Linked DNA regions of Homo sapiens. The protein of the gene in region 1 interacts with the protein of each later gene in a pairwise test. Each region holds a gene or a part of one and is shown in the gene's direction. Other genes may lie near its edges. The genes, in order: LASP1, SEPTIN3, VGLL3 and CRYBA1.

What was found.
Region 2: the proteins of LASP1 (region 1) and SEPTIN3 interact in binary tests that used the Homo sapiens proteins (3 or more experiments, as listed by UniProt).
Region 3: the proteins of LASP1 (region 1) and VGLL3 interact in binary tests that used the Homo sapiens proteins (3 or more experiments, as listed by UniProt).
Region 4: the proteins of LASP1 (region 1) and CRYBA1 interact in binary tests that used the Homo sapiens proteins (3 or more experiments, as listed by UniProt).

Annotation. Positions count from the first base shown.
Region 1 is NC_000017.11:38,866,227-38,873,064, forward strand, and holds the start of LASP1 (LIM and SH3 domain protein 1), read left to right. Parts: upstream 1-3,831; 5' UTR 3,832-3,963; coding exon 3,964-4,032; intron 4,033-6,838. UniProt on the Homo sapiens protein: Plays an important role in the regulation of dynamic actin-based, cytoskeletal activities.
Region 2 is NC_000022.11:41,972,431-41,979,454, forward strand, and holds part of SEPTIN3 (neuronal-specific septin-3), read left to right. Parts: coding exon 1-566; intron 567-4,078; exon of another isoform or gene 4,079-4,153; intron 4,154-4,347; exon of another isoform or gene 4,348-4,634; coding exon of another isoform or gene 4,635-4,644; intron 4,645-7,024. UniProt on the Homo sapiens protein: Filament-forming cytoskeletal GTPase. May play a role in cytokinesis.
Region 3 is NC_000003.12:86,967,133-86,974,156, reverse strand, and holds part of VGLL3 (transcription cofactor vestigial-like protein 3), read left to right. Parts: intron 1-5,033; coding exon 5,034-5,567; intron 5,568-7,024. UniProt on the Homo sapiens protein: May act as a specific coactivator for the mammalian TEFs.
Region 4 is NC_000017.11:29,241,860-29,249,882, forward strand, and holds the start of CRYBA1 (beta-crystallin A3), read left to right. Parts: upstream 1-4,999; 5' UTR 5,000-5,004; coding exon 5,005-5,035; intron 5,036-7,282; coding exon 7,283-7,347; intron 7,348-8,023. UniProt on the Homo sapiens protein: Crystallins are the dominant structural components of the vertebrate eye lens.

The DNA of each region.
Region 1 (6,838 bases):
TACTTAGTTTTTTTTTTTTTTCTTTTTTGCAACGGAGTTTCGCTCTTGTTGAGAGCGAAACTTGTTGCCCAGGCTGGAGTGCAATGGCGTGTTCGTATTCTTTTTGGAGAGACCAAGGAAAAACTTTATCCAGTTTTGCAGGAGGTTGTTCTCTGACTTGCTAGCGGGGAGAGATGAGTGGGATTGTGGATAAAGAATTGAGCCTAGGCCGAGTGTGGTGGCTCACGCCTGTAATCCCAGCACTTTGGAAGGCCAAGGTGGGCAGATCACCTGAGATCGGGAGTTCAAGGCCAGCCTGTCCAACATGGAGAAACCCCGTCTCTACTAAAAATACAAAATTAGCCAGACGTGGTGGTGCATGCCTGTAATCCCAGCTACTCGGGAGGCTGAGGCAGGAGAATTGCTTGAACCTGGGGGGCACAGGTTGCGGTGAGCCGAGATCGCACTATTGCAATCCCGACTGATCAAGGAGAGCGAAATTCCGTCTCTGGGCAACATAGGGAGACGGCCTCCTTCACCCACCACCTGCCCCCATCTCCACAAAATGGAAAACAAACAAACAAACAAACAAAAATTGAACCAAGCAGGGGTGCGGTGGCTCATGCCTGTAATCCCAGCACTTCGGGAGGCCAAGGCGGGCAGATCATGAAGTCAGAAGTTCGAGACCAGCCTAGCCAACATGGTGGAACACTCATCTCTACTAAAAATACAAAAATTAGCTGGGCGCGGTGGCGGGCGCCTGTAATCCCAGCTACTCGGGAGGCTGAGGCAGGAGAATCGCTTGAATCCGGGAGGCCGAGATTGCGCCACTGCACTCACTCCAGCCTGGGTTACAGAGGAAGACTCCGTCTGGAGAAAAAAAAAAAAAAAGAACTGAACCTAGACAAAGCAGATTGGCACCTAAATTCACACGCTTTTCAAACTGCCACCACGTCTTGGCCTAGCCTTTTTTTTTTTTTTAGATGGAGTCTCGCTGTGTCGCCCAGGCTGGAGTACAGTGGCATGATCTCGGCTCACTGCAACCCCCGCCTCCTGGGTTCTGGGTTGCAGCAATTCTCCTGTCTTAGCCTCCTGAGTAGCTGGGACTACAGGCTCCCGCCACCGCTACCGGCTAATTTTTTGTATTTTTAGTAGAGACGGAGGTGGGGGGGGGGGGGGTGGGTTTCACCATCTTGGTCAGTCTGGTCTCGAACTCCTGACCTCGTGATCCGCCCGACGCGGCCTCCCAAAGTGCTGGGGATTACAGGCGTGAGCCACTGTGCCCGGCCTATCTTGGCCTAGTCTTTTAATTTCTCCTTCCTCATTGGTAATTTCAGTATAATCTAGCAAAGAGACACTAATTTTGAACGAATGGTGAAAGTATGAAAATTTTGGGATCAATCGATGTAAAAACAATTTACCAGAGAGCCACCGCCAGAGGGGGTATAGCTCAGTGGTAGAGCATTTGACTGCAGATCAAGAGGTCCCCGGTTCAAATCCGGGTGCCCCCTCGGGTTTCTTTAAGTTTTTTTCACAGCCATCCAGGAATAACCTGAGTCAGCGAGTTCTGAATGCAAAACTCACGGGAGGTGTCGTTTGTATCTTCCACCTACCTAATTTTCACCTTGAAAGGATTCCCGTACCCTAGAGGGAGAGAACAGCAACCAGAGGCTGCCTTTAGGTGGATCTGAGCCCTCATACCCCAAGTGGCGATAAGCGCACCAGTACTCTCAGTTGGAGAACAAAGGCGCGTATCGATTTCCATCTCCGATGCCCATTGGTTTAACGTTAATTATAATTTGTTTTGGGGTAAAAAATATGTCTTGGACGGGGCAGTAGTTCGTACTTGACTATGAAAACTAGGAGAAGTAATCCAAATTCAGAGGTTTTCATATACTCGCGAACTCGAACAGGACAGGGCACACAGATAGAAGGTAGACAGCGAGCAATTTTCCCCTCTTCCTTCTTGACTCAGCTCATAGGCAGGGCTTTGGCTTGATAAGCTATACATGGAAAGTTCAAGGCCTAAAGGAGAGGTAAAACTGGTTCCTCCTGGGTTTTGCACGGAACCGCAGCTCTGCTGATCTGTGATCTCTCTGTTCAGCCTAGAGATACAGCTCACAGTAATAGGAGCCAGGAGAAAAAAATGCGCGTTTCCCCGGGGTCCGAGGAATGACACAACCACATTCCGGGTTTAAAATATCGCAGCTGCCCTTTGACCCAGGCAGCACGCCTCTTCCTTTCTCCTTTATTTTTCCTTTTTTTGGGCAAAACCTAGTCGAGGGGGACGCCCTTGTCTCCCGTCACACTTACCATTTTCCTCCGGCCCAACAGTGACCCTGTCAGGCACGCAGCCAGCAGATACTTGTCCCCATCTTTAGGTTATGAAACTCCATGGCCTTTTATTCTTACTTCAGTGGTTCTTAAAATGTGGTCCCCACACCAGCAGCACCAGAGGCACCTGGAAACTTGGTAGAAATGCAAATTCTCGGGGCCCCCTTACAGAATCAGAAACTAGCAGTGTTTTAACAAGCCCTGCAGGTAATTCTGATGCACGTTCAAATTTGAGAAACACTGTGTTCGTTTATCTCAGTTTGCACTGGGTTATAACTTTACTTTTGTACATTAATAGTCAAGGATGAACACAGCACGTCCATGTCACCATTAATACAGAAAGTTGAAGTTGGAGAAGGGCTGTGTCTATGGGTTTCCCTCGCCTGACCCACCCTCCACCCCCAAAAGGAACGCCAAGTTGAGGCGTTCCCCTGTCTCCCTACCCCCATTGGAAACATCCTGTCCCTCAAACCCGGCACCTCGAACTGTCTGACCCATCTGAGGCTGGCGCCCGTGGCCGCAGAAATCCCTACACCTCTGGCGCGAGTAATGCGGTCGCGCAGCTTTTATACCCACCCCCTCCTCCCGCTGAGCACAAAGTAAAACCGAAAGATTTCTGCTAAGGTTGAAAAATGAGGAAGATACTTTTTCTTTTCTTTTTTTTTTTTTTTTTAGTCAGGACCCAATGTTAAAATGTGAGTCAAGAATGAAAAACAGATGGTTAACAAGGGGAAGGAAAAACCAAGCCATTGAGGGGGCACCCGGATTTGAACCAGGGACCTCTTGATCTGCAGTCAAATGCTCTACCACTGAGCTATACCCCCGCGCCTCTACAGCGCCTGGAGGCGGCTCCTTGGGTGCTAAGCATTGTTGCAGCTGCTACACTGTGAGTAGTGGTGTAACAGAAGGAGAAAGGAATGCTGGAGAAAAAGGGGTCAAGCTGAACGCAGACGGTGCCCGCATCCGGGGAACCCCGGGAAGGTGCACTGCAGGGGCTCGAGAGGGAAGCACTAGCCCGGGCCCGGCAGCGCGCAGGGTCCAAGAGGGAGGGACGGGTTCCGCCCCACAAATGTGGGAAAGGGTGTGGGCCGGAAGAGAGCTAAGAGGGGCAGGGTAGGGGGTCCCCGTTCGGTCCGCAGATTCATGCCGGGTAGAAAGTCCCCGAATGCGGTGAATCAGTTCCAGCGTTCAGGAGGATCCAACCCCACCCTCGACGGGCTTGAGGGGTTAGCCCGCCTCCCGCAGCCCGGGCGCCCCAGATGTGCAGCCTGCTCGCCTCTGCGCCGCCTCCGGCTGGGGAAGGGCCCTGGGCACCGGGCGCAGTCAGCCTGAGAGCGCTGAGGCGCCAGCACCGCGGGCCCCGCCGTCCCCCCAGGAACCCGCCCCCGCGCAGCCCCACGTCGCCCGGAGAGCGCGCCTCGCTGCGCGTGCCCTTGCCCGCGCCCGAGGCGCGTGCCCGCCCCAGTGCAGCCCCTCCTCCCCGCTGTGTTTATTAGGGGAAGGAGGGCGGAGGCGGAGGCCAGTTCCCCAGCTCCAGCCGCCGTCGCTGCTGCCTGTGTAGTTGCAGCCGCGGCCGCCTCCCGCCAGCTCGCCTCGGGGAACAGGACGCGCGTGAGCTCAGGCGTCCCCGCCCCAGCTTTTCTCGGAACCATGAACCCCAACTGCGCCCGGTGCGGCAAGATCGTGTATCCCACGGAGAAGGTGAACTGTCTGGATAAGGTGAGCCCGGGACCGGGAGACGCGTCTTTGCAATCCCCCGCAGTGCTCCGAATCCAGGGAGGAGAGAAGGGCCGGGTCTTTGCCGCCTTATCCCCGCGATCCCAGGAGAATGGAGGGAGGGCGAGCGGGCGGTGTCATGGGGTGTGGGGACACATCCCAGTCTGAAAACCAGGAGATCTGGGGCGAGGCGGGAAGTCCACGCGTAGCGGGCAGCCGCTGCTGGAGAGGGGTGGGCTCTGTGTCCCGGGGTTGGGAGGACGGGAGAGGAGCAGGGAAGTCAGGCGCCGGGGTGTGTTGGGGGAAGGTTAGGGGTGCAGTCCCGCCCCCTACGGCCTGGAGAGTGAGAAGAGACGGCCGCTCCCTCTCCGCTCTGCGCCGAGCGCCAAGTAGGCGGAAGCGCGGGGCGCTGGTGGAGGGGGCGGGGGGGCGGGGCAGAGGCTGGGGGGCCCTGCAAAACCGTCCGCTCCGGCGGGGGTGGCCTGGCTTCCTGGCCTGGCGGGGCGGGGGCTATCAGCCTGCGAGTGTGTGGCATCTGATGCGGGGGGTTTTGGGTAAGGACCCGGGCTCTGCCGCAAGAGCCCCGTTTTTGAACGACCTGCACCCCCTTGGATTCAGTCGTTAAAGGACTCGCAGACCTCCTCCACAGCTTCCCAACCCCCACCTCCAATTAAAAGCCAACTCCCGGTGCTGGGCCGTCCAGCCTGAGCCGGGTGGGGTTGGGTGGCAGAGTAGGGTGGGTGGAGGGTGCTTAGCTGAGATCTCCTGAAATTGTGCTCAGAGCCAGGAGACCGTGTGGAAGAACAAAGAGCTAACTTTTCAAAGCAGGTTTCTCCAATGGAGGGTGGGGTTGGCTGAGTTCTGGGGAAGCCGAGGAAAGGGGGAGGTATTGGGGGGAGGGGAGGGTGGCCTTGTGGAGATTCAGTGTCCCCTGGGGGCCCTGTCTCCCCAATGCTGGACTTGTTCATCTGGTTGCCATTAGACTTTTGGAGGGGGGTTGGAGAGTAGAACTGGGTGTTTCCCGTACAGTTTAGGGTAGGATCCTGTTCTCTTGTAAGCTCCGTAAGATCCTAAGGTAAAACCTGCCCCTCTGCATCCCCTCCCCAGTCTGGAGGGGAGGCCTCTGTGATTTTGTGCCCTTCCTCACCGCGTCTTTCATCCACCACCCAAAGCTGGCTCCAAGTCCAAGTATTCTGTCCTTTCCATCTGAACTGGGAGGGCTGGGAGGACTGGATGGAAGAGAGGTGCAAGGGTGGGAACACTAGATGAAAGAGGGGTATAGAGCCCTGGGGCCAAGTTCATTACTGACCTGGAGCCAGGTTTTGTTCAGGAGAGGATAGTTTATTGGACACCTTATCTCTCCCCTCCCCCTTGGTGTGTGAGCTTCCTCAGTGACCTTTGGCCTCTGAGTCAGCGTGAGGAGGTGGGGTTGGAGGTTCTGAAAGATATTTGAACTTGCTCTTGGGGAGTGTGGGCATATGGGGCCGCTGCTGTGTCACTGTTCCTCCTGGTCCTGGGCTTGACTGGGCAGGAGGAGAGGAGGGGGTATATTGTGGGCACGAGGAAAGTTGTTGATCTCCCCATGACCATGCCAGCCGCTGTTGGGCAGGACTTGAGCTTAGAGCTATCAGATAATGAAGTCTCCCCTTGAGAATGTACCTGTCCTTGCACACTGGGGTTTCGCCCGCCCCTCGTGGCAGAGATTTTGGCCTCTGCATCTTGAGTTCCCTGTGGTCCCCTTCTTCTCCACAGTCATGAATTGGGAAGAGGCAGTGGGCACTTGACCCGTATAAGGAAAAAGCAAAACATGAAGGCAGGATTGCCACTCCAGGAGTTGGGAAACTGGGTCCTTGTTCCAGGTCTGCTCCCACCAGTTTTATGAATGTCTCTAGGCCTCAGTATTCACCATCTGTCAGATGGGTATGATGATGTCATTTCCTTAAAGGTGGGGCAGTGCACTAAAGTCCCTGAGTGCTAAAGAGGGTGCTGTATAGACTATGCCCTCCCTACCTCTCTGGGATGCTCTGTTCAGCTCCACACCACTCCCCTTGGAAAGACCTTCAGTGCCGTGTACCCGAGGGGAGGGGAGCAGGGATGGGCAGGGTGCCCTCCCCAGTTCTCTTACCCTAGCTGGAAGAGGACGTTCAAGTGGGGGTTGCCCAGGGAAGTGGGAGTTGGTGATTCCTTCCTCTTTTTAGAACTCTCCCTATAGGAAGTGGCCCTGGAGAGACCTCGCCCCCTGTACTGAGCAGGAGACCTGAAATATCCAGGTATCAGACCTATTCCTCTCCACCTGCTCCAGGCAGTAAGGATAGGACCAGGAATGGGGAGCCAGTGCCTGGAGGATGCTGGGCTGTGACCAGGGAGGAGGGGAAACCTTCAGTCCCATAGGCAGCTTCAGTCCCATAGTTGCTAACCAACTTCCCAAGGCCTCCCATTTACAGCAAAAGAGTCAAATTAGACTCACCCGTTTCTCTACAATCCCCCATGGTACTCAGCCCACTACGTGGCCCAAAGCACAGGGTGTGTCCTTGGTTTCAGCCTTTTCTCCTCCCTGAGCCTTATCTCCCAAAGGCATAGGTGGGTAAAAACCTTGTCACCTCTGAAGGCCACCCTGCCCCCAACCTGCAGTACCCAGCATGCTTTGCAAGCTGGATAAATATGTATTGCTGATGACAGTGTTTGAGGAAGGAGGTCGAGATTTGCTTCTCCAGAGGACTTCTGGGATTAGAGCTGGGGGAGAAACAGGGTGACCTCATTTGCTCATTCAACAAATATTTATTGAGCACCTACTTTGTGCACCTGCTTT
Region 2 (7,024 bases), on another chromosome or scaffold:
AGGGACAGTCAAGTCAGGCAAAACCGTGAACTTGGCTACAGCAGGCACAATCAAGCCGGGCACAGCCATGAATCTGACTACAGTTGGGACAACCAAGCCAGGGATGGTCATGGATTTGATAGCCTCAGAACCAGACAAGCTGGGCAAAGCCATGGCTACAAGAAGCACAGCCAAACCAGATATGACCACAGAGGGTATAGCCATGGATTCAGCAACATCAGACCCAGTCAAGCCGGACACAATCACAGCTACAGTGGGCACCAGTAGGTTGGAAACAGCCATGGCTTTGGCCAGAGTGAACAGAGCCAAGCTGGGCACGGCTAAGAATTCTCTTGCTTTGGACACAAGCAGGATGGGCACAGCTGTGGGTTCAGTTGTGCCAGTAACCCCAGACCCAGCCACTGGGAAGACCACACTGGGCAGTGTTAATAACCTAACCATATCAGACGTTGCTACATGCCTGCTAATGCCAAGCAGATCCACAGACCTAGCCCTGGACAACACTAATGCTGCCATGGACAGAGCCACAGAGCCTGCCTCACTGGACCTGGCCACAGAATACAAAGGTAAATGCAGAAACTTGGTTGGGGATGGACTAGGCTGCCGGGAGGGGGAGGTGTGTGAGCTTGGAGATGGATCATGCTTGCATGGGTTGAGAAACGGAGGAAGGACTCTAAGGTCAGGGTTGAATGGGTTGGGAGAAAAGGAAATGGGGGTTGTAGGGCCAGACATAGGGACTGTACCCTGAGCTGGGTTCTAACCTGCCAGTCTGAGGTCAGGCTGAGGGAAACTATCAGAAAGAAGGTTTTGGCCAGGTGTGGTGGCTCATACCTGTAATCCCAGCACTCTGGGAGGCTGAGATGGGAGGATTGCTTGAGTGCAGGAGTTCAAGACCAGCCTGAGAAAAATGGTGAGACTGTCTCTACAAAAAATAAAAAATAAGGGGCTGGGCACGGTGGCTCACGCCTGTAATCCCAGCACTTTGGGATCTGCCCAAGGCGGGCAGATCACAAGGTCAGGAGATCGAGACCATCCTGGCTAACACGGTGAAACCCCGTCTCTACTAAAAGTACAAAAAAAAAAAAAAAAAAAATTAGCCGGACGTGGTGGCGGGTGCCTGTAGTTCCAGCTACTTGGGAGGCTGAGGCAGGAGAATGGCGTGAACCCGGGAGGTGGAGCTTGCAATGAGCCGAGATCATGCCACTGCACTCCAGCCTGGGCGACAGAGCGAGACTCCGTCTCAAAAAAATAAAAAAATAAAAAATAAGGGTTGGGCACAGTGGCGCACACCTGTAATCCCAACATTTTGGGAGGCCAAGGCGGGTGGATCACTTGCGGTCAGGAGTTCAAGACTAGCCTGGCCAACATGGTGATACCCCGTCTCTACTAAAAATACAAAAGTTAGCCAGGTGTGGTGGCACATGCCTGTAGTCCCAGCTACTTGGGAGGCTGAGGCACGAGAAGCACTTGAACCTGGGAGGCAGAGGCTGCAGTGAGCCAAGATCGTGCCACTGCACTCCAGCCTGGTGACAGAGTAAGACTCTGTCTCAAAAAATAAAATAAGATAAAATAAAATAAAAAATTAGCAGGGCATGGTGGCATGCATCTGTGGTCCCAGCTACTGGGGAGGCTGAGGTGGGAGAATTGCTTGAGCCCAGGAGGTCGAGGCTGCAGTGAACCATGATTGTGCGACAGAGCAAGACCCTGTCTCAAAAAAAAAAAAAAAGAAAAGAAAAAGAAAGGTTAACAGGGGTAACTTGTGGAGGAGCAATTATGGTGAGTCCTCCTTTCAGCATCTCCCGGGATTGTTTGTTTCCTGAAGACCTGGAATAATCAGGTGATCAATAGGTGTGTCCACCTTTAAAAGCAGTGGCTCACACCTGTAATCCCAGCACTCTGGGAGGCTAAGGCGGGTGGATCACGAGGTGAGTTGTTCAAGACTAGCCTGGCCAGGCCAGGCGTGGTGGCTCACACCTATAATCCCAGAACTTTGGGAGGCCGAGACAGGTGGATCACGAGGTCAGGAGATCAAGACCATCCTGGCTAACAAGGTGAAACCCCGTCTCTACTAAAAATACAAACATTAGCCGGGTGTGGTGGTGGGTGCCTGTAGTCCCAGCTACTTGGGAGGCTGAGGCAGGAGAATGGCGTGAACCCAGGAGGCAGAGCTTGCAGTGAGCCGAGATTGCGCCACTGCAATCCAGCCTGGGTGACAGAGTGAGACTCCGTCTCAAAAAAAAAAAAAAAGAAAAAAAACTAGCCTGGCCAACATGATGAAACCCCGTCTCTACTAAAAAATACAAAAAATTAGCCAGGTGTGTAGGCTGAGACAGAGAATTGCTTGAACCCGGGAGGCGGAGGTTGCAGTGAGCTGAGATTGCGTCACTGCACTCCAGCCTGAGCGACAGAGCGAGACTCTGTCTCAAAAAGAAAAAAAAAAAAAAAAAAAAAAAAAAAAGCAAGCCTCCTACCTCCTACGTGAAAATACTGACTAGCGCTTTAGGAAGTTGTGATTTGTCTAATAGGTAGTCTCTGCAGCCTCCTCTGGATGTGAGATAATGACCTCACTCGAGACTTTCCAAATCCATTTACGCTCAGCCTTTTAGGAAGGTATCTGTTGCTTAAAAGTTGTCTTACCTGAATGTCTCTTTCTTGGTCCCCCACCCCCAGCCCTTTAATCCTGAAAGGTAAGTTGGAGCCTTGTATATATGGAAGTCCTACACAGAACTCTAAAATAGGGCAACACAAGGGCTGGACATTCATTTGGTCTTAGAAAGCCTGTGACATGCCTAAAGTCACACCAAAGCTGGCTGGTGGCAGTAAGCTGATTGGAATCCAGATTGTTAAAATCTCTACTTTGGGCAGCCTCATTCCCAACATTTCAAGGGCTCAGAGTTTTTGGGTCTGGAAAGGTGCCTAGAAGGCATCCAGTCTAATGCCTTAATTGAGTCGTTAGATTGTCAGACCCCTTTCCCTCCACCCCACACACTCAGTCTGGGCACCTCACCTAAATTCTGGTCTTCACTTCTCCCTACGAGATCTCAGCTCTCCCTCCATCTGCAGCCCAGCCCTGTCTCCTGAAGTGCAGATGTGGGCAGCCAGCAGCCTGCTAGGCTTATCTACCCGGATGTCTCCCGGGCATGTCCAGAGGTAGCCCTTTTCTTCTTGAACTGACTCCTGCCTCCCTGATCTCACTCTCTCAGCTGTAGGCATTGCCTACCTTTTATTAGGTGCCTAGAAACCCGGGTATCCTCTTCTTCCTCATCTCTCTCTTGCCATCTCATCCAGTCTACTTCCCACCTTGTTGGTTTACCTCCTCAGTACTCAACTATCTGGCTGGCTGTCCCCTCCTCTCCATCCTTCTGCCCCTGTGAGGCCACCTCCCACCCACCAGCTTGTTCCCTGTCCACACACAACTGCTGCAACGACTCCCACATTGAATGGCAGCACTTTCGGCTTAATATTCGTCAGTGACTCACCATTACCTTCCATTAAAATCCAGCTTCCAAGGCTGCGTGCGGACTTCTCCAGCCTCTTATTTAGCTCTACACACCTGTCTGGAATTTTCTCTGCTTCAGCGACACCAAGGACTCTGGGCTGTCCACCAGCACCACGCAGCTCTCACCTCTGGAGACCCTCACCTCTGCTGTCCTCTCTTTGCAGAATACCTCTCCCTTTCCATTCTTCCCTTCCACTCCCATTTGCCTTTCCATCTGGCCCTCATCTCCTCCAAGAAGTCTTCCAAGCCCCCTCTCCCCAGGGTGCCCACCTGCCTGCACCCTCAGTTCCCTGTGTGCACCCCGGCCCCTGCATTAGGACATTCCATCTTCCTGTCTCCTCCACTAGACCCAGAACCTTCGAGGGGAGGGATGGTTGTCCTCACCCCTGTGAGGCAATATGCTGTCCATTAGTATCCACTGAATGCGTGAAATTTTTTTCTAATGGGCAAACTGAGGCTCAGAGAAGTTCCTGTCTGGCTCAAGGTTATTGGTTCATCATTCTGGAGCAGGGCCTGGAACCCGGGCCCCTGACTCGGCTCTACAGGCACCCGCGCAACACCCCAGCCCCCGCGTGACTCACGCGCGCTCACGGCCGCCCGCAGCTGCCACTGGTCCCCTGCGCCCCTCCGCCCGTCCCCGCCGCAGCCCAGTGGGTAAGGGGCGGGGAGCAGGTCCAGCGGGGAGAGACGGGACTGGGATGCAGGCACCTTTCCGGGCCTGGCACCTGGAGCCCGCGGGGGCGGCTCCTGGACCGCCCGCAGCGTGGACCCGGGACCAGTTCCCGCTTGCGGGCGCGGGCGCCGCGGGAAGGGGAGGGGCCCTCGGCGGGGCCGACGGGCGCGCGGTCACGTGGTGCGGGTGGCAGCGGCGGCGGCTGGCGGCGGCGGCAACGGTGCGCGCGGACAGGGGCGGCGCGGCGCCGAGCGAGCCGAGGCGAGGTCCCGGGGAGGGCGCGGCGGCGCGGGGCGCAGGGGCGGCGCGGCGGGGCCGCGGGCCGGGCGGGTGGGAGGAGAGCGCGAAGGGGCGAGGCCCGTTTGCAGGGGCCGCTCGGCCCGGGGAAGCCCGCGCCCCGCTCAGCCTTGCAGCCCCGCGCCCGGAGCATCTCCCTGGAGGAACGGAGACAAAGGAGGATTCATGTCCAAAGGTAGGGCGGCCGGCCAGGCCACCGGCACCCGCCAGGAGGAGGCTGCGGCCCCGGCCAGCGCGGCTGGAGGCGCTCCTGGGGGAGGGTTTCCGCGCCGAGGAGCCCACGCGCGGTGACAGATGCGCGGACACACGCACACACGGTGGCACCCACCTCGAGAGAGACAATCTTGGAGAGAGGCAGACATAGGACGCGGGGAGACGCAGGGACCCACGGACACGCAAGCAGGGACCCAGATGCGCACAGAAAGCCCCATGCTGGAGTACACCAAGACACGCACACACACACACACCACGCACAGGTGCCAGGGCCATGCCAGCCGGATGAGAGACCTGTGCACTGATACATACGTCCCCTCCCCCGCAACCCCTACAGGCACACGCTGAGACAGGCACCAGCTGGTGGTCTCCAAGGGAACCCGTTGGCCTCCAGAGGACTGGGATGGGGGAACGGGTGTCCCAGGGCCCTCTGCTCCTGCGAATGGGAAAGGACCGAGAGAGCTTTCGTGATTCCTTTTCCCAGAGCCTAGGGCTGGAACTGGGGTGGGCTGGAATTGCCTTTGTGGGGGGCGGTGGGGTCCTGAAGGCTGCGGGGGGCTGAGGAAGATCCATCTTCAGGGTGGAAGGAAGAGGGGGGGCCTGCACTAAGCAGGTGCTATTTTGGAAAAGTACCCTCCCCCAGCTGCTACCTTCCTAACACAGGGGTGGGGTCCCTGGGCCAGACAAAGCCAAAGCCATTCATTTGCCTGTAAAAGGAAGTGCCAGGGTCTTTGCTTAGCATGGGAATGGAGGGGCTGTTTCTTGGCTGCAACCGAGTCAGGTGGATGGTGCCTCTCCCTGGAGCACTGATGGGGCAGGTAGCTTCTGGCAGAGGGTGCTGCAGGCAGATCCCCCTTCTCCAGGGGCCCTAGGAGAGCCAGGAGCTGAGGGGGGCCCCAAGGACCATCTAGCCAGGATGGCAGACTTGAGCTGCACCCTGCTGTGACCCGAGCTCTTCCCCACCCTTGGGGAGCCCCCCTCCAATCCTTGTTGCAGAGGAAGGAGGAGGTCTCAACAATTCTACTCCCTTGACTGTGGCGGAGACAACAGCCATTGCTCACTGGGGGGTCAGCTGCTCTGCATGGGGAGAAGCATCTGAGGGAAGAGAAAGGTGATGTGTCTGATACCTGCCTCACTCTGAAGTTCTCATTCACTCATCATTCATTCATTCACTTATTGAGGAGTGCCTGTGGTATGCTGGGTAGACTGGGGCACAGAGATCAATAAGACACGGCCCCGCCCTAAAGAAGGGTGAGAACTAGTACGTATTTGTGCCAGATAATTTACATTCTTCATTCTGTATAACCTTCATAGAAACCCAGCAAGGTAGGTTCTATCCCCAGTTGTCTGAGCAGAAAATGAGGCTCATAAGGGTCACCCAGCCAGGATTCAAGCCTGGGTCACCTGCCCATCTGACGTTGACATGGTGGGACCAGGGGAGTTGTAGGGACAGAGGATGGAACTACAGAATCCAGCTCCAGAGCAGCATTGGTTCTGTGCCCCAGAGGTCTTTGTTTATTTGTCAGGCACCCTTACCAGACAGGGGGCCCTCAAGGGCAACAACCTTGTCTGGGGTACATAAGTGTCCTTGGAATTTCGCCTAGGGCTTGGCTGGTGTAGACCCCCATTTGACAGCATATGAAATGGCCTAGATGGGATGGAATGAATGAATGAGTGAATGTGATGAGTACCAGAAAATGTGCAGTGGGCACAGAAGAGGGCCATCCACATCAGAAGGCAAAGCAGAGGCTTTCCTGGGAGTAGCAGTGGGGCTGAATGCTGGAGGAGGAGGAGGAGGAGGAGGAGGAGGAGGAGGAGGGAGCCAGGGGTTGGAGGGGGAACAGGATCTTCCAGCAAAGCTTGTGGCACAGTGACCTGCACACATTTACTGTACTTGGGGCTGGTGGGTGGCTTGTTAGCATGTGACTGGCATGTCACTGGCATGTGGTGGGGAGGCTGACTTGCCAGCAGGCGCTGTGTACAGTGCACACAGTGGGTGCTCATATGTGCTTGTTGGAGGAATGAAAGTGAGATCTACCAGGTCCTGGTCCTGTAGTGGGCCTGTGGTAGCCCCTAGATGCTGCTTGGGGATCTGGTAGGACCCTCTCTCCATCAGGGTCTATCTTTTGGGCGTGCTCTTTTAGGATGCTGCAGTTGACAGGCCAGGGCGGAGCAGGCCATGGTGAGAGCACACACTTTATAGGAATCTTTACACAACCTCTCATAAGTAAATACAAGGCATACTTTCCAAGTCTGTAAAATGGGGATAAGACCACCCCCCCAAACCATGTGGCTCTATCTTATAACACAGGTTGAGACCAAATGGGCTCAGCTGCAGAGGC
Region 3 (7,024 bases), on another chromosome or scaffold:
GACAGAGTGAGACTCTATCTAAAAAAAAAAAAAAATAACAAACCTAATGAATATGATTGGTCCCTTATCTCCATACAAATATATGTTTCTTGATACCCTTCTCCTAGAGTTATTATAAAGATTTTAAAAATAATCTATATGATTAATTTAGCACAGCGCTAAACATTGGTTTCAAATATGCCTATGCACTGATCTTTACAGAAATGAGTCTGTGTGTATCTGTAGAAAAGGGCAGGAGCTATGTCAAGCCATAGCAGAGTAAATCACTGACTTAAAACCATACAGAATGCTAATCTTACTGATATTGCAGTTGCAAAGAAAATCATCTGTTGGCTCATTGATGTACATAGGGTCTGCTTGGGCAATTCATTCTCATGGGAAAAAGCTCTCAAAATAAATACGAAACCTAAATAGTCAAATGGAGAAAGGAAAAGGAGGGCCTGTCTGATGAGCTGGCTGATACTGGAAATGAACAGAATGTCCATAGGACCAAGACATGGGGAAAAAAGTGAGGCGTGACTAATCTCACCCTGCTGCCTCCAAGGAGTATCGGCCTCTGACATCATCCCTTGAAACTCTCATTGTAGAGTCACAAGGCCCATTTTGAGCAACTCTAGAAGAAAGTAACTAGAAGGCAATCTTTGGACATAATGGTAATGCATAATTACTGAATGACAGAAAACACTGGAACACATGTCATTTCACTTCTGACCCAGCCATTTATTTTTATGGGAAGAACAACAAGAGAATGGCAATGAAATTACAGCAAGAACACTTTAGCTTAAGAATTGAGTAGAATTTTGTTTTTTAACTGATATTAATAAAAAATGTAAAAATGTTACCTTTTAGCATTTAATAATCATATTTTAATCAATATTGATTCTAATGTGTTTTCTGGAAATTTTTAAGATGACTTAGAGTTTCTATAACACTTCATTGTCCCATTTTCCTTTTAATTTAGTTTTTGTTATTTTCAAAATTAATAAGCTGTATCATTCTTTAAATTTTGAATCTTATCTTTCTTAAATTTTTTACTCGGAGATTTTAAAAAATTTTTTTGGAGGTAATGTGTGTGTGTGTGTGTTTTTTTTAAGAGACATTTACAATCAGTGTAAAAAGTATCCCACTATTGTGAAATTGAAAGAAATACCTGGTATACCATGTTGCAGTCTAAATCAGATAGTGAGATTACTGGGTTTGCTTTTAGTGGATTTTATTAGACAATGTATCAATATTATCATTTTCTTTTTTGTCTAGAAATAAACTCGTGTGTATGTATGTGTGAGTAATATTTTTAACCCCAAATGAAAATTGAACCAAAATTACAGTTGGGCATTTTGTATGTGTTAGACTGTCAGTGTCAACATCATCCAAATATTGGTTAACATCACCTGTATACCAGGTAATATTGAATCCAAACTCACCATATAGTGTTAATAGCATAAAGTATTGTATTTTCTTCACTCACCTGAAATGTAATATTGCATAGAAATAGCCCATGCAGTTTTTCATATGTCTTCTTCATCCAACAAATGTGGCTGTGATTAAGTACTCATAAGCAAAGAATCATGTAATGAAAAAAATTTACATACATATGAAATAAGCACACTGGTTCTCAGGCATGAAACAAAGCATATCATCTCTTCCTTTGCATCAAGACTTTTTTTTCTTAAACAAGCAAGACACCGAATAGTGATTTTGAAGTATAAACTTCTTCATAAACATATTTTCAACTCAATATTGTTTCAATTGTAAATGTAACAGGTTTTTTTTAAAGGGCTGCATAGATCTTTGCAAACTTTATATTCATCTCAAGAGACATATTGACTGGGAAAATATTAAGTTCCTTTTAATTTTATTTTTCCCTGGAGCATTTTAAAACTTTGTTCAATCTTTATGGAGTGCATTTTCAAAAATAGATTTCTACTTTCAGTAATAATGTCTTCACTAATCATGGTACAGTACTTCATAAATAGACCAATAATATTTTTGATAAATAATTGATTCATTATTCCCATTTGCGCATGCATATTCAAACTGCATAAGCATCTATAAAATAAGATTGGCTCCATGTACATATAAATGAGACTAAAAGCATACAGAGAAATGGTATATACTCTCCGTACTTTTGACATCTTAATGGTGGATTTTAATAAGGGGAATTCTATATCTCTGGCACGTACTTGTGGTTGGGGCTCAACGGTTTTCATAATAGGATTCTAGCCCCTCGGGAGATGGAAGTTAGGAGCAGAATGAAGGCTTTGGTCCCAAAGATGGGAGTTGTGAGAGCAAAGTGGCAGATGTGTGGTAGCAAGGATGAACTATGTAGAATAAGGAGCCTCTCTAAACTCTCTGTATGGGTTTTAAGCTTTAAACATTGATGGCTTTCATTGTGGGTATGACAGAAATATTTTACAAATGACCATCACCTAAGGCAAATTGAATTTTCTTCTTACAACTTACACGACTTTCCTTCTTGTCATTAATAGTATTTTTCATATGTTGCAAAGAGACGATTGTTAATTCAAGAAAACATAGTTACCTCAATGTCAGTAAGGCTGATTATAGGTGGTATTTTTGGATAGATTGTGATTTTAACAAAGTCATTCAATTAAAAGTTTCCTGAGGTTGTTTGAAGACTTAAAGTGTGCAGTTCCATTCTTTGCCTTTTGAAGAACACCATTTCCTAGATTTCCCCAAGTGTTTTGAGATCGATGGAGATGTTGTGAGAGAGGGAATTGACTGTGAATAGCTGTGTGACCACAGGATGAATGGGATGAATGGTCATGATCATAGCTCTGGTGCCCAGCTGAAGGGGAGAGAATAGAAGAGCTTGCAGTGCTGCTGCCACAGCCTTTAGGGGAGAGGAAATGTTCACACACCACAGTAATGCCGAATTATGTTAACCAAATGATATATGTGGTGGTTGACTGAAGTTTTTTAAGCTTTCCCTGAGGCAAGAAAACTATGGCCTGATATTTATAGAGAGAACATAGATAATGTCAGAGTTTTGAATATTCTTATTTTAAAATACTTCTTAAGATATCCTCCATTCATACCCTTCATTCAATGGAAAGATCTAGCAAGGTTCTTTTATGTGGAACTCAGTATAAAAATACTCTCTTAAACTCACATGACTAACATCTTTAGAAAATGTCTTCTTCTGTAAATAAAAATAATCCATAGGGCACTTCACAGACTGTTAGCAGTATTAAGCCGTAGATAATTTGAATTAATGAGTTCAAATACTTCATTTTCTTAGTGAAAGAAAGTAAACCATGGAAAGATCAATGGGTCCATATTGGGTGATAAAATGAGATAGGGTAAGACCTAGGATCAGAGCTGGGCTCCTTGGTCTCCCAGCCCAGTGCTTGTTTAGTTATACAACACTGTAGGCAACAGGCTACAGGTGGAGGCACTGATCTTTCCACAAACGGATTTGACTGTGTCACTTACTAGATTAAAACCCTTCAAAGCCCATTGAGACCCTGCCACCTCAGAATAGAATTTACATTCAGTACCATGGCCAGCAAGTCTACACCCATCTTGGTCCTCATTTCAATAGTCTCAATTTTTCTGTTGCCACCTTCTGCCTATGGAACTCTTTTTGTCTTTCAAATGCTGCTGCTGTCATATGTGTGTGTGTGTGTGTGTGTGTGTGTGTGTGTGTGTGCGTGTGTGTAATATATGGCCTTTTCTTATGTGCTGATCCATTTGCCTAAAGCTTACTTCCCAGGGCTAGCCCCCACTCAGTCTGTCAGCTTCCACTTATCACTCTCTAAGCTGGGTCGGGGCTCTCTGTGCTTCCTGTTGGGAGAATACCTACCGTGTCACCTTGCACATGTCTGTTTTTACTTATCTATCCTTCTGCAGATTGTGACTAAAAATGATGTCCATTTGGTCATCCCTGACGCCTATGTTTGATACATAGTAGGTCGTGTATAAATGTGTTATTACGATTGAGTAGGAAATTGAACTGATGAAGAGTTAGGGGATCGTTTTCTTTCTTATTCGTCTCTAAGTGCTATTCTTTGATATTTCCCTCTCCCCAAAATACTTCCTCAAACCCATGACTTCTACTTGAATTTCCTCCACTCATCATTTCCATAGGATCTTCACCAAATTCGAGATGTTGAGGTTCACAGTTACAATTGCGCCCTCTTGTGGCACTTTATGAAGAGGCCCAGCCATTGGCCATTTAGGCCACCTGGCTTCAAAGCCTAGTCCCATTCTTGCCATCTTAAGCCTTAGGCTTCTTCTCTACTGGGATTTTCTCATCATGGGAATAATAACAATAACTACCCCATAGGCCTGGAATGAAACTCCTATGAGATTATCCATGAAAAGCCCCTGGAAAAATGTTGGGCATTTGATACTGTCATTAAATATTGACCATTTTTATTCTCGGTCTAGAGACTCCCAGATCTCCACAGAAAATAAATAAATAAATAAATAAATAAATAAATAAATAAATAAATAAAATGAGGTTGGAATACACTCTTCTTAATGGAAAATGAGTGTTAGTGAGTATAAGTAATTGTAATCTTACTTCCATTGTTACCTTCGGCATTAAAATGTTTCATTTAAATGAAAATTGTATTTGCATTTAGAAGTTGGTAAAAATGATCATGTCCAACTTATACAAACCTCATTTATGGCATAAGATTTCTTTACCAGTGAAGTGGGTAGATATGACCTCCTCTTAGGCCTAATGGCTGCAAGGTACTCAGAAGGAAATGAAATTTTTCAATCCCCAAATTGCAAACCTTAGCACAGACTGTGACGGCATAAGCCAAGCAAAGCAAATGGAGGGAGGCTCATTTAACACTTTGGATCTTGCACATGGACCCATTGGCTTGCGAGCCCAGAGGCCAACCTGGTATCAATTCACCCCTGTTTGGGGAGAATAAGAGTGCATGCTAATTTGACTGCTTGTAAAATATTATTGGACAATTAGAGTGGACAATTAGAGGCAAGTCTATCCCAAAACTGAGTCTTATGTTAATAATGTTTTTTATTTTCTGTCTTCTCAGACAGCTCAGCTCTCTCAAGCCAGCGGAATAGTTTCCCAACTTCCTTTTGGACCAGCTCTTACCAGCCCCCACCTGCACCTTGTTTGGGGGGAGTTCATCCTGACTTCCAGGTCACTGGACCCCCTGGCACCTTTTCTGCAGCTGATCCCAGTCCTTGGCCGGGACACAACCTGCATCAGACTGGCCCAGCCCCTCCCCCTGCTGTGTCTGAGTCCTGGCCTTATCCTTTGACATCTCAGGTGAGCCCATCCTACAGCCATATGCATGACGTGTACATGCGGCACCACCACCCTCATGCCCACATGCACCACCGCCACCGCCACCATCATCACCATCACCACCCTCCTGCTGGCTCTGCCCTGGATCCATCCTATGGGCCTCTGCTGATGCCTTCAGTGCATGCGGCCAGGATTCCTGCTCCCCAGTGTGACATCACAAAGACAGAACCAACTACAGTCACCTCTGCTACCTCAGCATGGGCTGGAGCCTTTCATGGAACAGTAGACATAGTGCCCAGCGTGGGATTCGATACAGGTAAGCTGCTGGATTTCTTTCTTCCTATAACAAGATAAAGTTAATTTAAGAAAGGGTGGAAATTTGTTTTGAAATTATTTTTTCTTATCTGTAAAGTTAAACTTTACCAACATGTTTATGGAACCTAGCCATTTTGCAATAATTTCTGCATTCCTGCAGAAACTGGTATGACTAGCTCATGAAATCCAGCCTGAGAAAGGTCTCAGAGCTTTTCTCTCATATCTTAGGTTAGTAGTCTGTTCCTTTGAAATGGAATCTCTGGTACCTTCTGTTTAAAAAGAAATGAGCCCATTATTTAAATCTCCCATGTCTCTGAGCATTATACCATGTGTCAGGCCTAACAGAATTCAGAAATGGTGCACTTCAGTAATTTTTCTTTCCTTTCTTTTTTTGTTAGGCCTTATGTATGACTTATAAAAACTGGTTTCTGAAATATAGTCTATAGTGTAGCCTTTTGAACAAGAATTAGGGAACATATTTTAAAAGAATGATTTTTTTCTTCATTTTCTTCCTCCTCTCCCCTCCTCTGCCCTCCGTTCCCTGACTTTATCCTCCTTTGCCTTTCCTTCTTTTCTCTTATTCCTCCTCCTTTGTTCCTCTCCTCTCTCCCTGTCTCTGATTTAAATAATACAAGACTTAAAAGACTACTATAAAATTTATATTCAACAGATTTAGAAACTAATAGTAAGGAAATGATTTCTTCACAGAGCATTCATCTCCTGTCTGGAATTCAATAGTTCTGAAGGTTCTGTGTCAAATGTCTGAGCTTGATTTTTGGACCAGACTGGTCATATTAATAGTATTCATAGTTCTGAGCTCATGAAATCATAGGCATCAGAGCCCAAAACGACAAATTGATCATTGTATCCCTGGAGTCCAAAGTAGTGGGTCCCAGGTTCTTTTGCTAGAACATTTTGTGGCACATTGGAACTCTCTTTCCAAAAGCTTAAAGAAATTCTTTCCTTCCTTAGCTTTTCTGTAGTGTGGAGAACCCTTAATCATGTGCTGGTTCACAACAAATAATTCCCCAGAGTCATAAATGCTCAGCTTTATTTTACCTCTCCCGTGACATGAGTGGAACGTTCTTATTTTGGTTAACTTTTCTCCACTGAGCTTTCCATTGTTGATCATTGCCCCATCTAACACATTTCAGCTTCCTATTGAGACTGGGTTCAAGCTGCTTTTCTAAACAAAGTATCAGGGGACTTGGTAATCCCTCTGCAGATGCGTGTGTGATGGCACAGCAGGCACAGGCTTCCCTTCTTTCTTTGCCACATACTAACAAAATAAAGACAACTTGGGAGTCATTTGATGCCTGAGGCCAGATCTTATTAGAGTTCCCAATTTGGCAGCTGCCTTCATGGACAGCAGGTCTCAGGAGGCTCTTCTCTGTTTTATGTGGTACTTATGTGGCAACAGCAACAATGCTCTTAGCAGGCAAAGGGCGTGTTCTTCCC
Region 4 (8,023 bases), 9.6 Mb from region 1:
CTCTAGAAAACTAGACTGACAGAATACGCTGCTAAAATTTAATAAAGAAAAATATCGGAAAACAAGAAAAATGGAGTGAATTTTCCAAATTCAAAGGAAACATTTTTTATCTGAATTTTTTTTCTAAAATCTGTGCTACTTGCTCCCACTTGTCTCTATGAGAATTTAGCAAAAGATGGTATCTGACTTGGCACAGTCAGTAATGCAATTACCATGTGGTGATGAGTTCTGAGTACCTAGCATTGCTCTAAATCCCTTTATTTCCCTTCATCTGATAGCAGTGGTTAAGGTAGATATTATCACCCTATTTTGTGCCAGGAAGAAAGAAGATGGGCTTTGCAGTCAGATAGACATATACTGAAGTCCCTGCTAGGTTCCCTGGCCCAGAACTTCCCTGGCCTCTCAGAACCTCAGTTAGCTCATCTGTAAAATGGGTATTATTATCTACTTCACGGCATTGTGGTAAGGATTACAAAGACACTGTCTGGTTTTGCAGTCAATGCTCAGTAAGCTGTAGTTATTATTAATAAGGATGAACAGGAGAGACCCATACTCAGCCTGGGAGAAGGGATTCCAAGCTGGTTGCTCCCTTCATTACCACTCCTTGAGTGGCTCTGCTTTAACTTTCCTGGAATGAGATGGGGCTGGGGGCTGCCGCAAGGGAAGCAGCAGTGCCAGACAATGTCAGAGGGGGAATCCGCCAGAACTCTGTTAAAAACTATATTGAGTTGACATTTGGAAGGCTTGGTGGTCAGTACTGGAGAGCTGAGAATCCTCAATCTTTCAGGACTTAAGGTGATTGAGAAAAGTGGATTGAGGCCAGATGAGGACTTATGACTCCAGGAATGTATGATGGATATTTGTAAATTGTTCTCACAATAACCCTGATTCCCACCCGACCACCACTATAGTTCTGTGCATGTGTGTTTGGGCTTTTCAATCAAACATAAAAGCCTCGCTTCTCTGCAAAAATTAAAAATTAGCTAAGTTGATCTCCATGTACTAGCAATTCAGTAGGATGTAAAGCCCCCATATTACGATGCTGAGGGTGTGTGAAGCCCAAGCAGGCCAGTTGTGGCTGGGGTGAGAAGGCCAAACTCAGCTGGGTGCTCCTAGCAATAAGGACTATGCCACCAGAATCACAAAACCCAGTCATTCATTCATTCATTCATTCATTCATTCGGAATATACTTATTGAGCTAGAAGGTATGCTTAGAGCCGAAGACGTAACAATGACCCAGGCAGGCTGCAGTGGCTCACACTTGTAATCCCAGCACTTTGAGAAGCTGAGGCCAGTGAATCCCTTGAGTCCAGGAGTTCGAGACCTGCCTGGGCAACATGGCAAAACTCTGTCTCTACAAACAAATACAAAAATTAGCTGGGCATGATGGCGCACACTTACCATCTCAGCTACCTGAGAGGCTGAGTTGGGAGGATCGCTTGAGCCCGGAAGGTGGAGGTTGCAGTGAGCCATGATCGTGCCACTGCACTCCAGCCTGGGCAACAGAATGAGACCCTGTCTTAATAAAAAAAAAAAAGAGAAAGAAACAACCAAAAAAAAAAAAAACCTCAGTGAACTAGACAGATGAGGCTCCTGCCCTTATAGAGCATGGAGGCTAGTGGAAGAATTAGATAGGTAAACAATGTTTTATTTTTTAAAATCACTTAGTCTTAATAGAAAATATGTTCCCAATGTTCAAAATTTAAAGATTACAGAAAAATATACTATGAAAAGTCTTGTCCTGTATCTGAGGCCCAAGTGCCTCAGTTTCCCCCAACATTTGGAAACCAGTACTTCTAGTTCCTAAAGCAATTTCTGCAGCATGATCAATGTGATCTTGTGTAATTGGAAAAGCACAGGATGACATGAGGACACACTGTGAGGGCCTAAGCCAGCCTAAGAGTGGATGATTGAAAAAATGACTAAATGAGTGTTTCCCAAAGACCCTAATTCTGAAGAAAGGAAGGAGGAAGAGAAGGGAAAGGAAAGAAGAATCACCAACCATAGACAGCTAGTGCTTTAAGCCCTTGCACAGCCACCAGGTGGCCAGAGCATGCTATGATACCAAAAGCAACTCTGTCCCCTGCCAGACATCCGTCCAGACATCACGAGTTAATCAAGGCATCAGAAACATCCTTGGGGCGATGTGCCATGCTTAGCATCAGATTTATATGTCTAACAGCAAGTTTGTCCAACCGGCAGCCTGCAGGTGGTATGTGGCCCAGGACAGTTTTGAATGCATCCCAACACAAATTAATAAACTTTCTTAAAACATTATGAGATTTGTTTTGTAATTTTTTTTTAGCTCATCAGTTATCATTAGTGTTAGTATATTTTATGTGTGGGCCAAGATAATTATTCTTCTAATGTGCCCCAGGGAAGCCAAAACATTGGAAACCCCTGGTCTGGAACGTTCTACCCAAATCTGCAAATACTCGAATACATACCAGACCTCACCCCCTGATTTTTGGTTCTGAAGAAAAGGGGCCACTGATGAAACTTGAGTCGGGGACTGGAGAGATTGCAGAGGAATTGAGAGAACTTTCTTTTTCTCTCCAAGCTGCTATGAAATTTTCTTTTTTCTTTTTTTTTTTTTTTCTGAGATGGAGTCTCGCTCTGTCCCCCAGGCTGGAGTGCAGTGGTACAATCTCGGCTCACTGCAAGCTCCGCCTCCCGGGTTCACGCCATTCTCCTGCCTCAGCCTCCCAAGTAGCTGGGACTACAGGCGCCGCCCGCCACCACGCCCGGCTAATTTTTTGTATTTTTAGTAGAGATGGGGTTTCACCGTGTTAGCCAGGATGGTTTCGATCTCCTGACCTTGTGATCCGCCCGCCTCAGCCTCCTAAAGTGCTGGGATTACAGGCGTGAGCCACCGTGCCCAGCGAAATTTTCAATAGTATCTTTCATTGGAAAGAGAGTAGGGTAAGGAGTCATAAGCCTACAATGTATCAGGCAGATATTCTATTTTTGAGGTTGAGAGAGTCTGAGTGACTTGCTTCAAATCTCCCAGCCAGGAAACTGGGATTTGAACCCACATCTGCCTGGCTCAAAGCCTTCCACATCCATTGCAGCCTCTTGCTTCTCACAATATCTGTGATGCTTGCAGAACACATCTTCCCCTTCAGGGCCCCTGCGGAGGCCCACGATTCCCCTACCTTACCTTCATCAAGTGTCCTGAAGTTTCTGGGAGAAGTCATTTTACACTTTAAGGTACTATACGCATAGTAACTTGGGCCTGTGAGATTTCCAAAGACCTAAAACAATTCAGTAAAACGTCAAAATTGGCCGGGCACAGTGGCTCACGCCTGTAATCTCAGCACTTTGGGAGGCCGAGGCAGGCAGATCACTTGAGGTCAGGAGTTCAAGACCAGCCTGGCCAACATGGTGAAACCCTATCTCTACTAAAAATACAAAAAAATTAGCCGGGCATGGTGGCAGGTGTCTGTAATCCCAGCTACTCAGGAGACTGAGGCAGGAGAATCACCTGAACCTGGGGGGCAGAGGTTGCAGTGAGGCAAGATCGCACCACTGCACTCCAGCCTAAGCAACAGAGCGACACTCTGTCTCAAAAAGAAAAAAAAAATTGGTTTTGAAGGTGTGGGTGGCAGGAATTCTCGCCCCTGGCCTGGGTGAGCTAGAGGGGAGAAGCAAGGACATCTAGGTCCCTATCACCGCTTGCCTAGACAACTTCACAGGAAGGCCCCCGGGAATCTGAGATGGAGCAGGTGAACCCTTTACATCTAGATGGTGAGTCCAAAGGAGGTATTCAGAAGGTTGCCTTCTTCCCCTTCCTACTGCTGCCCAACGATGACCCGCAGGCTGAAAGAGCCCTTTCCTCCTGGAACTGATGTGGGACCTGGCCTGTTTGGGAGCAGAATGGTGAAAGGAATTAACATGGAAGACAAAGGGACAGGCAGCCAAGATCATTTGAGGAGGAAAAATTGCTTCATTTCTAGGCTCCTTCCCCTTTTGAAACAGATAAGTTACATCCATTATATGCTCAGTGTTTATATTCAGAACTGCAGTTCTAGCCAGGGGGGTCTCTTTCCTCTCCTGGAATTTTTTGGGCCATTTATGCATTACTCCTGAGGGAGGGCCAGTGCAGGGCAGTGACTTTGGTGTTGGTTAGAACTGGATTCGAGTCTTGGCTCTGCCATTATAAATACTGTGACCTTAGGCAAGTCACCTGATTGTTCTCTTAGTTTCTTAATCTGGAAAATGGAGGTGAAAATAGCACTGTTGTGGTGGCTGTGAAAAAGTATTTCTTTCTTTTGTTGTGGAAAAGTATTTAATTCAAACTTTTTAAGTAAAGCATTTAGCACATGTCTAATATATAGGAATTATTCAATAAATGGTTTAATTCTTTTTTAAAAAACCCAAAAGTTATAGCTCCAAAATTTTTAAAGAAAATTGCAAAATTAAAAGGAATATTTAATAAAATAGCTACAGAGAGACACATGTCTGCTAGTCAACTATAATTGAAGTCAACCCTTACATAGTTATATATAAATACAGCATAATAAAGATTCCCAAGAATACAATGAACCATTTTTTCTCATATTGAGTTCAGAATTACAATAATTCTTTCACATTTTTAAACAACAAGAAATGCACATCTGTATGGAAGTGAGGTGCATTTTGATGTGTTTGATATGACATGGGGTCTCCCAGGGTCTTAAGGTCTTAGGAAGATCCCAAGGTGGTGTGAGGAACCTGGAGAAGGACAAGAGACAAGTACTCATGGCAGAGACTTCTGTCCTCACCCCCTAGCTGCTCTGAGAGATTAAGAAAGCCAAGGCCTGCAGCAGCCAGCCATGCCCACAACAGAGGGGCCTCTCTGGATTTCTGTATCCCTGGTTTAAACAAAGGCCCCAGCAAGCTGAGCCACCAAAGCTCTGGGGATCATGAGGAACAAAGGCAGAGGGAGAGCAGAGTGCTGACAGGGCCAGAGGCCAGAGGCCGCAGGGCTATAAAGAGGAGGGCCACAGAGCAAGTGGTACCAGATGGAGACCCAGGCTGAGCAGCAGGAGCTGGGTGAGTAAGGCCCTCAGGGTGCCCTTGCCCTTCCTCTCCTTGCCCTGCAGAGACATGCCCAGGAGAGGGCCCAGTTCTCCTGCCTAGTGTGTAGAGCCTTCTAGGGTGGCTGGAGAAGAGTGGGGAACTCTGGCGGAAGACAGCCTTCTCTTGTCACCCCAAGAGGAGTCACTTATATAGCAATAACCACTGCCCTAGCAACTAAGGCTGGGGGATGGGCATGGGCCCCCAAGAAACGAGCAGGGAGAAGGTATGGGAGCAGGACCTGGGAAATGTTGCTTATTCAGAGATTCAGAATGGAAAAATATATTACAGAGTTGACATGCATCATTCCTGGGCCCAATACCAGCCAGGAGGAGGGCCATGAATATCTGTCCTAAGAAACCTAATACACACCTGCCTGTCTTCCTTCTTCCCTTCCTCCCCCACTTTTCCTTCCTCTTTCTTGCTCTGTCCTTCCTTTTTTAAAACTCGTCCTACCATCTTCACTGTCTACCTAACCTCTTTGAGCCTCAGTATCCTCATCTGTAAAATGGGGATAATGATAATTCTTAATTCATAGTCTGTATGTGAAGATTAAATGCATGAATGCATGTAAAGCATTTAAAACAGGGCCGGACATGTAGATAGCCATTTTTGAGTGTAAGTATTATAACTCTTTTCTTCTTCACTTTCCTTCAATAAGTCTTTTTCAATGTCCCCCTGATCCCTCATCTCCACATGTGCTCAGCACGATGCTATACCAATCCCCTAGAAGACCGAGGCCTTGCCATTGAGGTGCTCACCAGGACATCCAACCAGAACACAGATTGGTACTGTGATGAGTGCTATAAATCAAGAAAGCAAGCAAGTGGCTGTGGGCTGGAGAAGGCAGGAAAGCCTCTGAGAAGGCAAGGTCAAGGCTGGGTAGGATCTAGGAGATAGAAAAGCAGAAAGGAATGGCCAGGCGCCGTGGCTCATGCCTGTAATCGCAGCACTTTGGGAGGCCAAGGCGGGCAGATCACCTGAGGTCGGGAGTTCAAGACCAGCCTGACCAACAGGGAGAAACCCCGTCTCTACTAAAAATACAAAATTAGCCGGGCGTGGTGGCACATGCCTGTAATCCCAGCTACTAGGGAGGCTGAGACAGGAGAATCGCTTGAACCTGGGAGGCGGAGGTTGCGGTGAGCCGAGATTGCGCCATTGCACTCCAGCCTGGGCAACAAGAGTGAAACTCTATCTCAAAAAAAAAAAAAGAAAAAGAAAAGCAGAAAGAGGCCAGATAAGGATGAGACCGTGAAGGGTTACGAGGGAGTCTGGGGCTTGGGATCCTGGCATGGCTGGCTGTTTGGCCAGTCACATGAGGGGTCTGGCCTAGGTGGTTGCCAAAGAGTTTATATTGCAGACAGAGGTAATGCTGTCACCTGAAAGCAAGTGAGAGGACAGGGTCTCAGTGCTTTACCTGCATTATTGTTTCTGATCCTTGTTTTTTTTCTTTTTTTTTTTTTTGAGATGGAGTCTCACTCTGTTGCCCAAGCTGGAGTGCAGTGGCACGATCTCAGCTCACTGCAACCTCTGCCTCCCGGGTTCAAGCGATTCTCCTGCCTCAGCCTCCCGAGTAGCTGGGACTACAGGCGTGTGCCATCATACCCGGCTAATTTTTGTATTTTTAGTAGAGACGGGGTTTCACCACGTTGGCCAGGCTGGTCTCAAACTCCCGACCTCAGGTGATCCGCCCGCTTTGGCCTCCCAAAGTGCTGGGATTACAGGCGTGAACCACCGTGCCCGGCCTATTATTTCTGATCCTTACAATAACTGCATGTCGAAGCTTTACCAATGGAAAAACTGAGGCTCAGGCTGGGCGCGGTGGATCACTTGAGGTCAGGAGTTTGGGACCAGCCTGGCCAACATGGTGAAACCCCCATCTCTACTAAAAATACAAAAACTAGCTGGACATAGTGGTGCATGCCTGTAGTCCCAGCTACATGGGAGGCTGAGGCGGAAGGATCACTTGAGCCCAGGAGGCAGAGGTTGCAGTGAAGTGAGATTGTGCCACTGCACTCCAGCCTGGATGACAGAGAAAGACCCTGTCTCAAAATAGCAACAACAACAACAACAAACCCCGAGGCACAGCTAGTGAGCAGCAGAGCCAGAATTTCAACCAAAGTCTGTCTTGCAGACTTCAAGTCTCCTTTACCTTTCAAGGCATTCCCTCACCTCCCCCTCCTCCCAAGAGGCCACATCATTCGTGTGTGCTCTGTCTTCCAGAAACCCTTCCAACCACCAAGATGGCTCAGACCAACCCTACGCCGGGGTCCCTGGGGCCATGGAAGGTAAGCCCACCCCCATCACATCCAACAGGGCAGGGGTGACATGCTGCACAGAGCAGGCCCCAGGCCTGTGCTCGTCCATAAGGCAGTGACTGACCAGAAAAACCCCAGTTTGTAGGGGAAAGGTCCACACAAGCTCCAGTGCTGTCGAAGGAAGGATCTCTCAGGATGTCCCACTGGACAAAGGAAGGATGACTGTGGATGCCATTGATGGGTGGGAGATGATACCTAGTTTCCTAACTCCTCTCTCCTCCCCACTAAAGTCATCTTAAAATACAGCAGCCCAGCAACAGTTATGTCCATGGAGAAAATGAGGGCCCATAAAGATATTTACTACTAGATCCCAAATAAATTACAGGACTCAGCCTCCCATCCTGAGGTTGGCTTTAACCATTGGCCGAAGTGGCTGATCCTCAGGCCTCTCACTGGCCTCTCTCCAACACTCCCCACTCTCCTCATTGGGTCAACTCTGAGGCCAGCTCACAGCTTTGCGAGTGGTCCTCTGGCCAGGTCCACGAGCCAGGTTTTAGTTCAATGTACAAAAAGGGTTGACCATAACTCTCCTTTACACTCTAGGTTTCTATAGGGGGTATGGCTGGAGAAGCTAAGAATCTATAAGGAGCTCCTGGGACTCCCAGAATCCTGGCCTCTGGGCCATGCTTATGAAGGAACTGTGGTG